Homo sapiens: one gene and its partner. The protein of the gene in region 2 interacts with the protein of the main gene of each other region in a pairwise test. Each region holds a gene or a part of one and is shown on either strand. Other genes may lie near its edges.

The links. Proteins that work in one complex are often made in the same cells at the same time.
Region 1: the proteins of MYOC (region 2) and ITGA7 interact in a two-hybrid assay, tested with the Homo sapiens proteins (one study listed by BioGRID).

Annotation. Positions count from the first base shown.
Region 1 is NC_000012.12:55,697,905-55,701,404, forward strand, and holds part of ITGA7 (integrin alpha-7 isoform 2 precursor), read right to left. Parts: coding exon of another isoform or gene 3,475-3,500; exon of another isoform or gene 3,446-3,474; coding exon of another isoform or gene 3,422-3,445; intron 3,251-3,421; coding exon 2,995-3,250; intron 2,983-2,994; exon of another isoform or gene 2,662-2,982; intron 2,490-2,661; coding exon of another isoform or gene 2,358-2,489; exon of another isoform or gene 2,123-2,357; coding exon of another isoform or gene 2,086-2,122; coding exon 1,966-2,085; intron 1,014-1,965; coding exon 806-1,013; intron 673-805; coding exon 479-672; intron 123-478; coding exon 34-122; intron 1-33. UniProt on the Homo sapiens protein: Integrin alpha-7/beta-1 is the primary laminin receptor on skeletal myoblasts and adult myofibers.
Region 2 is NC_000001.11:171,635,314-171,639,685, forward strand, and holds the end of MYOC (myocilin precursor), read right to left. Parts: intron 3,410-4,372; coding exon 3,284-3,409; intron 1,397-3,283; coding exon 612-1,396; 3' UTR 104-611; downstream 1-103. UniProt on the Homo sapiens protein: Secreted glycoprotein regulating the activation of different signaling pathways in adjacent cells to control different processes including cell adhesion, cell-matrix adhesion, cytoskeleton organization and cell migration.

The sequences.
Region 1 (3,500 bases), on a different chromosome or scaffold from region 2:
CACCCATTCCCTCATCCCAGCGACTCCCCTCACCTGTGAAGGTTTGGCGACAACCCCCAGGCTGCTCCCATGGTAGATGAAGACTTTCCCATCACCATCAAAGGGGGCACCCACTGCAATATCTGCAGGGCACAGGGAAAAGGCAGTCACGCTGGCTGGGGGCCTTGCAGACAAGATCCAGGCCTCAACTCCCCCCAGTCACTCAGGTATGTTTTCTATTTTATTGAGAGGCTACAAAATCCCAGGCACTCTACATACATCATCTTTAATCCTCTTGGCCACTCCCTGCAGATATTACTAACGCAAAAAGGTTAGGAACTTGCCAAGGTCAGAAAGCTGGTAAATGGTACAGCTCAGACATAAGCTCAGGGACCCTCTCTCCCTGAGTCCTCAGAAGACCACACCCTGACCTCTGAGGGGCTTCCCCATCCCTCCTGTGGCCCCTCCCTCCCTGAGCCTTTCCAGTTCCCCGTCACACCTGGAAAGCCATCTTGGTTGAGGTCCCCCAGGACAGCCAGGCTGATCCCGAACATGGAGTCAGGGGAGCCGCAGAGCCGGAGAGGGGAGATCCCAGCCCAGTGACCCCCCTGGTTCAAGTACACATACACAGCACCCCCCAGCTCTTCTTGGCGCTCAAAGAAGTAGGGGGCACCCACTATCAGGTCTGGCCAGCTATGGAGAGAGGGAAACATTCAGTGTGGGTCCTCCCTGGCCAGAGGAGCCAGCAGGAGGCTAAGTGGCCTCAGCCAGACTGGGGCTACTAGACCCAGCCTCCCTCAGGTGGCACGGCCCTCTACCCACTCACCCATCACTGTTGAGGTCAGCCACAGCCAGTGAGTAGCCAAAGCCGGAGGTCAGGCGCTCCCCAGACAGCATAACCTCGGGCACCAGGCGACTGGCGCTGTCCTTGCGCAGGATGACCACAGCACCCTTGTGGTTGGCGCGGGGGGCTCCAGCCACAAAGCTCAGCTCTTCTGCACGCACCAGACCTTTCCCCGAGTCAATAGAGAAGCCTGGGGGAAGGGTGACTTACCCCTAAGTCTTCACCCCAAGACTCAGAAGCTGGGGTGTGTCACAGCTCCCCCAGCCCCTGCCCCCTCCCTACAGGTTAAGAGCCAAGTCACAGCTCCCCTGCACCCTGCCCCCTCCCCTAGGTTAAGAGCCAAAAGATAGGTCCCCCCAAGTCATCAGCACCACAGCTGGATAGCTCTTCCTCCCCACAGGGCCTGGCAGCCTCCCACACCCACCAGGCCCAGAGACAAGCTTGGCACAAAAAGTGCAGTGAGGTCAGCCTCAGGGACTGGGCAAGAGAGAGAAAGGTGATGGCTGAGAAGGCCAGGAGCCCAGGTAGGAGGCTGAGCACAGTGGCCTCACCCTGCCCACACCCAGGGAGCTAGAAGAGCTAGAGGTCCCTCTCAGGCCCGAATCCCACCCAGTGCACCTCTTTCCCCCAACTCCCTCATCCTGGCAGGGAGGGGAAGTCTTCACATGGATGAGGGGGAGACAAGGGGGAGTGAGAGAGCGCCTGCTTCACCCAAACATCTCCCAGGCCTGGTTTCCTCCTCCTCTGCAGAGGAATGCAGATGAGACAACGAGAGGGACTTACCAACAACATTAGCCCTTTCTTCAATATGTGCCCACCATCCATCCCCTCAGGGAAAGTCCCCCTAGAAGACAGGACTGTCCTTCCCAAAATATCCTCAGCCCTGGCCCTCTCATTCCACCTGAATCTTCCTCCATGGAGACCCCTGGCTCACAGCCCCAGAGGCCACCACCCTGGGGGCCTCCTCCTCTTAGGCCTGATCATTGGACCCAGCTCTTCTCTGCAATTTGGGCCCAATGTATGTCTCCCTGGGTGTGTGTTGGGGGAGGAGGAGATTATAAGGCACCAAAGGTCGAGTTCCCTGGGGAAGGAGGGGAGGCTGGGCCATGCCCCTAGAGTCCAGGAGGTGGGAGCTTACAAACCTAAGTAGCTATTGAGGGCCAAGTCTCCGGCTGGTCCTGGGAGCCGGTCAGCAGGGTCCAAAGTTTTATACACCAGCTGGTCGGGGTCTGAGCTATCAATGTTGGTCACAAAAAGCAACCCTGTGGGGGGTGGGGTGAGACACCAGGGAGGGGACATCCAGAGTAGGGGCCACAGAGTAGGGAGACAGAGCCACAGAAAGGCCAGAAAATGGTGGAAGAAGAAGAGGTGGAGAGAGAAAAAGAGACCAGAGAGATCACAGCCAGAGACAGAAAGACAGAGAGAGACAAGGTGAGAGACAGAAACAGAGACAGAAGGATGGGAGCATGGAGAGAGAGGACAAGAGAGAGGAGCAGAGGGTTAGAGCAGTTCTGGGCCGGGGAGAGGTCCCTACCAAAGTAGCTGTTGGCAGGGACCGGGATGAGGCGGGGGTCCTGCTCCTTCTCTCCCCCCGCCTCGTAGGGACCGTCGTCCAGGTGTGCCAGGTCCGCTGAGCCCTGTGCACAGAGCTCCACCCTGGCCGTGCCTGCAAGGACAGACCTGTTAGTGCCCAGGGCAGGGCGCAAGGAACACCCCTCAGGCCGGACACTGAGTTAGACAGGCACACGGGGAAGCCCTGCCTCTTCTTTCTAGCCCTCTCCCCACCCTGTCCCCAACCCAGGCTTCCTGGGGTCCCCCAGATGTGGCATCACACTCACCGAGTGTCAGCTCAGCCAGCAGCAGCGTGCGGAGACGGGAATGGCAGTGATGAGGTGTGGGCTAGTGTGTTGGAGCATGCAGGCCCCAGCTGCAGGCCCAGCGTGCACTTGGGGCCCATGCCAGCATGTTGAGGAACACTTGGCCGTGCGAGGGAAAGGAGGCACCCCCCATTCATGTGTGCACTAGCTCAATGGGGTGGAAGGCATGGCAGTGCCCTGGGGCCATACAGCAGTGCACATGTGGTCATGCTTGGCCATGTGCCATCCCCAACCCTGTCTCTGAGGTAAGAGGAGGTTTTGGTCCCCTTCTCCCCTTCCCGAGGAGTGACTCACCCTTCCAATTATAGGTTCCTGGGGCCCCAAAGAGGAGGTAGTGGCTATCAGGGGAGAAGGCGGCAGCTGTGCCCTGCTGGCAGAACCCAAATTGTTCATGGCCTTGGGGGCGTCCCTCACAGAACTTCCATTCCCCACCATCCAACTCATCCCGGATGGCCAGGTCCTGGCTGAGCACAAAGCAGCGACCAATCATATCCCGCGTCTCCAGGATCTGGTCCACTCGCTGCCTTGCCTCATATCGGTGTGCACAGGTCTGGGGGAGGAAGGGATGGGGATCATTTCACTCTGTGGGCCAGGGACCTGCTTGAGGCATGCTGCCCATATGCAGAGATTTGGCAGATACTGATACATGTGTGCTCACATGCACATGCACATGCACACATACACACACACCCCTATGCCGGCACCACTCAAGCACCATTACCCTGCCAGTGTTACACAGGTCCATGCATAACCCAGCAACCTGTCTGCACCCACTTCCTTGCCCTCAAATGGAGATCTCC
Region 2 (4,372 bases):
ACATCCTGCAATCACATCTCCCAACCTGAAGGAATTACCTGATGGTTGGAATCTATATCCTTCTCTTAAGCAAAGATTCCCACAAAGTTCAAGGAAGAGAACGTTGGGTAAGAAAATTTTATTTCACAATGTAAAGGGTTATGTGAGACCCAACTGTATTCTATCTGAAGCATTAGAAGCCAACTGTAGTAAATGCATCTTACTTATATTCGATGCTGGCCAGAGGAGCTATTCTGCTTCCTTTAGAAGTTATGCTTTTTATTGTGGCTTGTGGTAACCATGTAACATGCAAGAGCAATGGTTTTCAGGAAGAAACTATTATGCCTTACAGCTTTTGCCCCAAATCACAAGAAAACTTGAACTATGTCATTAAACATCCCATAAATGCTGACAGAAGATAAAGGATATTTATTATATGAAATTGTCTACGCCCTCAGACTACAATTCCTGAATAGTTAGATGGTGACCATGTTCATCCTTCTGGATTAATGAAAACTTGGAAAGCAGTCAAAGCTGCCTGGGCCCTGGCTGGCTGGCTCTCCCTTCAGCCTGCTCCCCCCAGGAGCCCTGAGCATCTCCTTCTGCCATTGCCTGTACAGCTTGGAGGCTTTTCACATCTTGGAGAGCTTGATGTCATAAGTGACCATGTTCAAGTTGTCCCAGGCAAAGAGCTTCTTCTCCAGGGGGTTGTAGTCAATCATGCTGCTGTACTTATAGCGGTTCTTGAATGGGATGGTCAGGGTCTTGCTGATACCTGTGCCTGTGTCATAAGCAAAGTTGACGGTAGCATCTGCTGAGGTGTAGCTGCTGACGGTGTACAAGGTGCCACAGATGATGAAGGCATTGGCGACTGACTGCTTACGGATGTTTGTCTCCCAGGTTTGTTCGAGTTCCAGATTCTCTGGGTTCAGTTTGGAGAGGACAATGGCACCTTTGGCCTCATCGGTGCTGTAAATGACCCAGAGGCCTGCTTCATCCACAGCCAAGTCAATGTCCGTGTAGCCACCCCAAGAATACGGGAACTGTCCGTGGTAGCCAGCTCCAGGGATTTCCTTCTCAGCCTTCACTGTCTCGGTATTCAGCTCATATCTTATGACAGTTCTGGACTCAGCGCCCTGGAAATAGAGGCTCCCCGAGTACACCACAGCACCCGTGCTTTCCAGTGGCCTAGGCAGTATGTGAACCTTAGAAGGGTAGCCCTGCATAAACTGGCTGATGAGGTCATACTCAAAAACCTGGCGGACATCCGTGCCAACTGTGTCGATTCTCCACGTGGTCTCCTGGGTGTAGGGGTAGGTGGGCTTGGGGTCTCGCATCCACACACCATACTTGCCAGTAATTGTTTCTGCTGTTCTCAGCGTGAGAGGCTCTCCTACCCAAACTAGTTCTCCACATCCTGGTAAATTCAGAAAAGAAAACGAAGCACCACTTAATCCATAATCTTTCCAAACACAGACAATGATCATGCGGAAGCTTGGCAGAGCCAGTAGATGTGACAGCCCTGGAGACAAATCGTCTGGGTTTAAAGCTAGGCTCTACCACCCGCTGGCTGTGTGACTTTCAGTAAGTTACTTAGCTCTCTACGCCTCAGTTATCGCATTTGTAAAAGGGGATACTAATAGTGTTTTGGGTAGTAGGGCTGTTGTAAATTTTAAATGTAATTATATATGTTAAGTGCTTGGTATAGAGTAAATATATGGTAAATGCTATATGATCAATCTGTGTTTCATGTTATTGACAATTATTGCTATCACTGAGGGGCATGCATGGGAGTGGGAGCTATAAAATATTTAAAGTACAATTCACTCAGTATCAGTTGTAAGGATGAAAGTTGCACAGAGGGCTTCAACTGCATTTGTAATATTCTACTTAAGCTGGGCAGGGACCCATGGGTGTTCATTGTATTACTTATTGTGACTTTCATGCCTGGTTTATTTCATTACTATAAGGTAGGAGAGAGAAAAATCAACTCATAAGAATAATCTCCATACAACAAAGTTTTTCAAGCCCTGATGAGTCACATATTTCATACATCATTTTAATATAATAAACATGAAAATAATTATTTTTTGAGACAGGGTCTTGCACTGTTACCTAGGCTGGAGTGCAGTGGTGCAATCACAGTGCACTGCAGCCTCGACCTTCCAGGCTCAAGCACCCCTCCCATCTCAGCCTCCTGAGTTGCTGGGACTACAGGTGCCTGCTACCACACCTGGCTAATTTGGTTTAGAAAATAATTTTTTAAATGTAGTGAAGAGACGGTTGAAAATTTAGAGTTACCAGAATCACAACAGATGTCTGTATTTTTTTTTTTTTTGAGACAGAGTCTCACTCTGTCGCCCAGGCTGGAGGGCAGTGGTGTGATCTCGGCTCACTGCAACCTCTGCCTCCTGGGTTCAAGCAATTTTCCTGCCTCAGCCTCCCAAGTAGCTGGGATTACAGATGACTGCCACCATGCCTGGCTAATTTTTGTATTTTTAGTAGAGACAGTGTTTCACCATGTTGGCCAGGCTGGTCTTGAACTCCTGACCTCAAGTGATCCGCCCGCCTCAGCCTCCCAAAGTGCTGGGATTACAGGCATGAGCCACCATGCCTGGTCCAGATTTCTCTACTTTTAATGGCACCTTCGGTTCCCTCATAGAAGGTAGAAACACTTTGCTGCTCATATCTTAGAGAACCGTGTTTTAAATATTTCATAACCCCTACTTGCATGCATGCCCTTCAGTGCTAGTAATCATTGTCAATAACATGGATAGTCAAAGTTTCTGGAAATCACAGTATTAGTCATAAAGTTGGACTTTCAGGGAACACTTTGGAGAGAGCCAAACTGTACTTTTCCTAAGTGGCCAAAGTTCAGAAAACATACTGTTAGTAACAGATTGTGGCTGAGATGGTGCTTGGTGTATACCTGTCCCTAAAATAAAGATATGAAGGCGCTACTGAAAAATGTAACTTCTCAAGTATATCTAATTCTACATGACAATCAAGTGGATGAAATCAACACATCTCTCATCTTGCCCTGTGCAGCCCAGCCCAGCCTCCCAAGTGTGGGTGATAGGATAGAGGGCTTTGTTAGGGAAAGGCTGACTCCTGCAGACCTGCTCTGACAAGGGAACAGAGAGAGAGAGAGAGTTCTGTTCCTCTTCTCCTCCCCTCCCTCTGCTCCCAGGGAAGTTAATTTCCCCCTTGGGTGGGCATTTACCCTATACTGATTCTCTGAACACAGCACTAGACATGAATAAAGACCACGTGGGCACAAAAGGGAAGAAACTTAACTTCATACCGGTGTCTCCCTCTCCACTCCTGAGATAGCCAGATGGGCTCTCCTTCAAAATTCGGGAAGCAGGAACTTCAGTTAGCTCGGACTTCAGTTCCTGGAAGGCCAAAGTGTCCAAATTCCACGTAGAAACTGCATTAAAAGAAAGAGACAAAATTTTACTGTAAGAAAAAATGGCCCAAGGATTGACTATGTTGAGGATGACATTTAAATAGGCTGCCGGCCAGGCGTGGTGGCTCATGCCTGTAATCCCAGCACTTTGGGAGGCCGAGGCAGGCGGATCACCTGAGGTCAGGAGTTCGAGACCAGCCTGGCCAACATGGTGAAACCCTGTCTTTGCTAAAAACACAAAAGAATTAGCTGGATGTGGTGGCAGGTGCCTATAATCCCAGCTTCTTGGGAGACTGAGGCAGGAGAATTGCTTGAACCAAGGAGGGGGAGATTGCTGTGAGCCGAGACTACACTATTGTACTCCAGCTTGGGCAACAAGAAAGAAACTCTGTCTGAAAACTAACTAACTAAATAAATAGGCTCCCAAAGATATGGTGTTTGAGATTTGATTTTAGATAAGGACTGGGGATGGGTTGGGGGTCAGAGAAGGGAAGATAAAACATGATTGGACTGTGCTGATAACAGTTGGGCCTGAGTGATGGCTACATTGGAGTTCATTGTAGTCTCTCTACTTTTGTGAATATTTGAACAATTCCATAATTAAAAACCTCATAAATAATAAATTGCAGGGCAATGTGCCTACCTTAGAGTAGGGTATTCAAAATCAAATAATATTTTAATTCCACTAGAAGGGCTGGTTTGTGAATAGGTGAGTCGTAATTTCAGGAATATGGAGACAGTCCTCAGCATCTTCTTAGATGTCTGAATTTCAATAATTAAAAATTCATGAAAAATTAGCTGGGCATGGTGGTAAGCATCTGCAGTCCTAGGTACTTGGGAGGCTGATGTGGGAGGATTGCTTGAGCCCAGAAGTTCAAGGCTGCAGTGAGCTATGATCCTGCCACTGCACTCCAGCTTGGGTAACAGAGCAAGGCCCGGTCTCAAGGTCTCAAAAAAAAAAAAAAAGAGACCGGGCACAGTGGC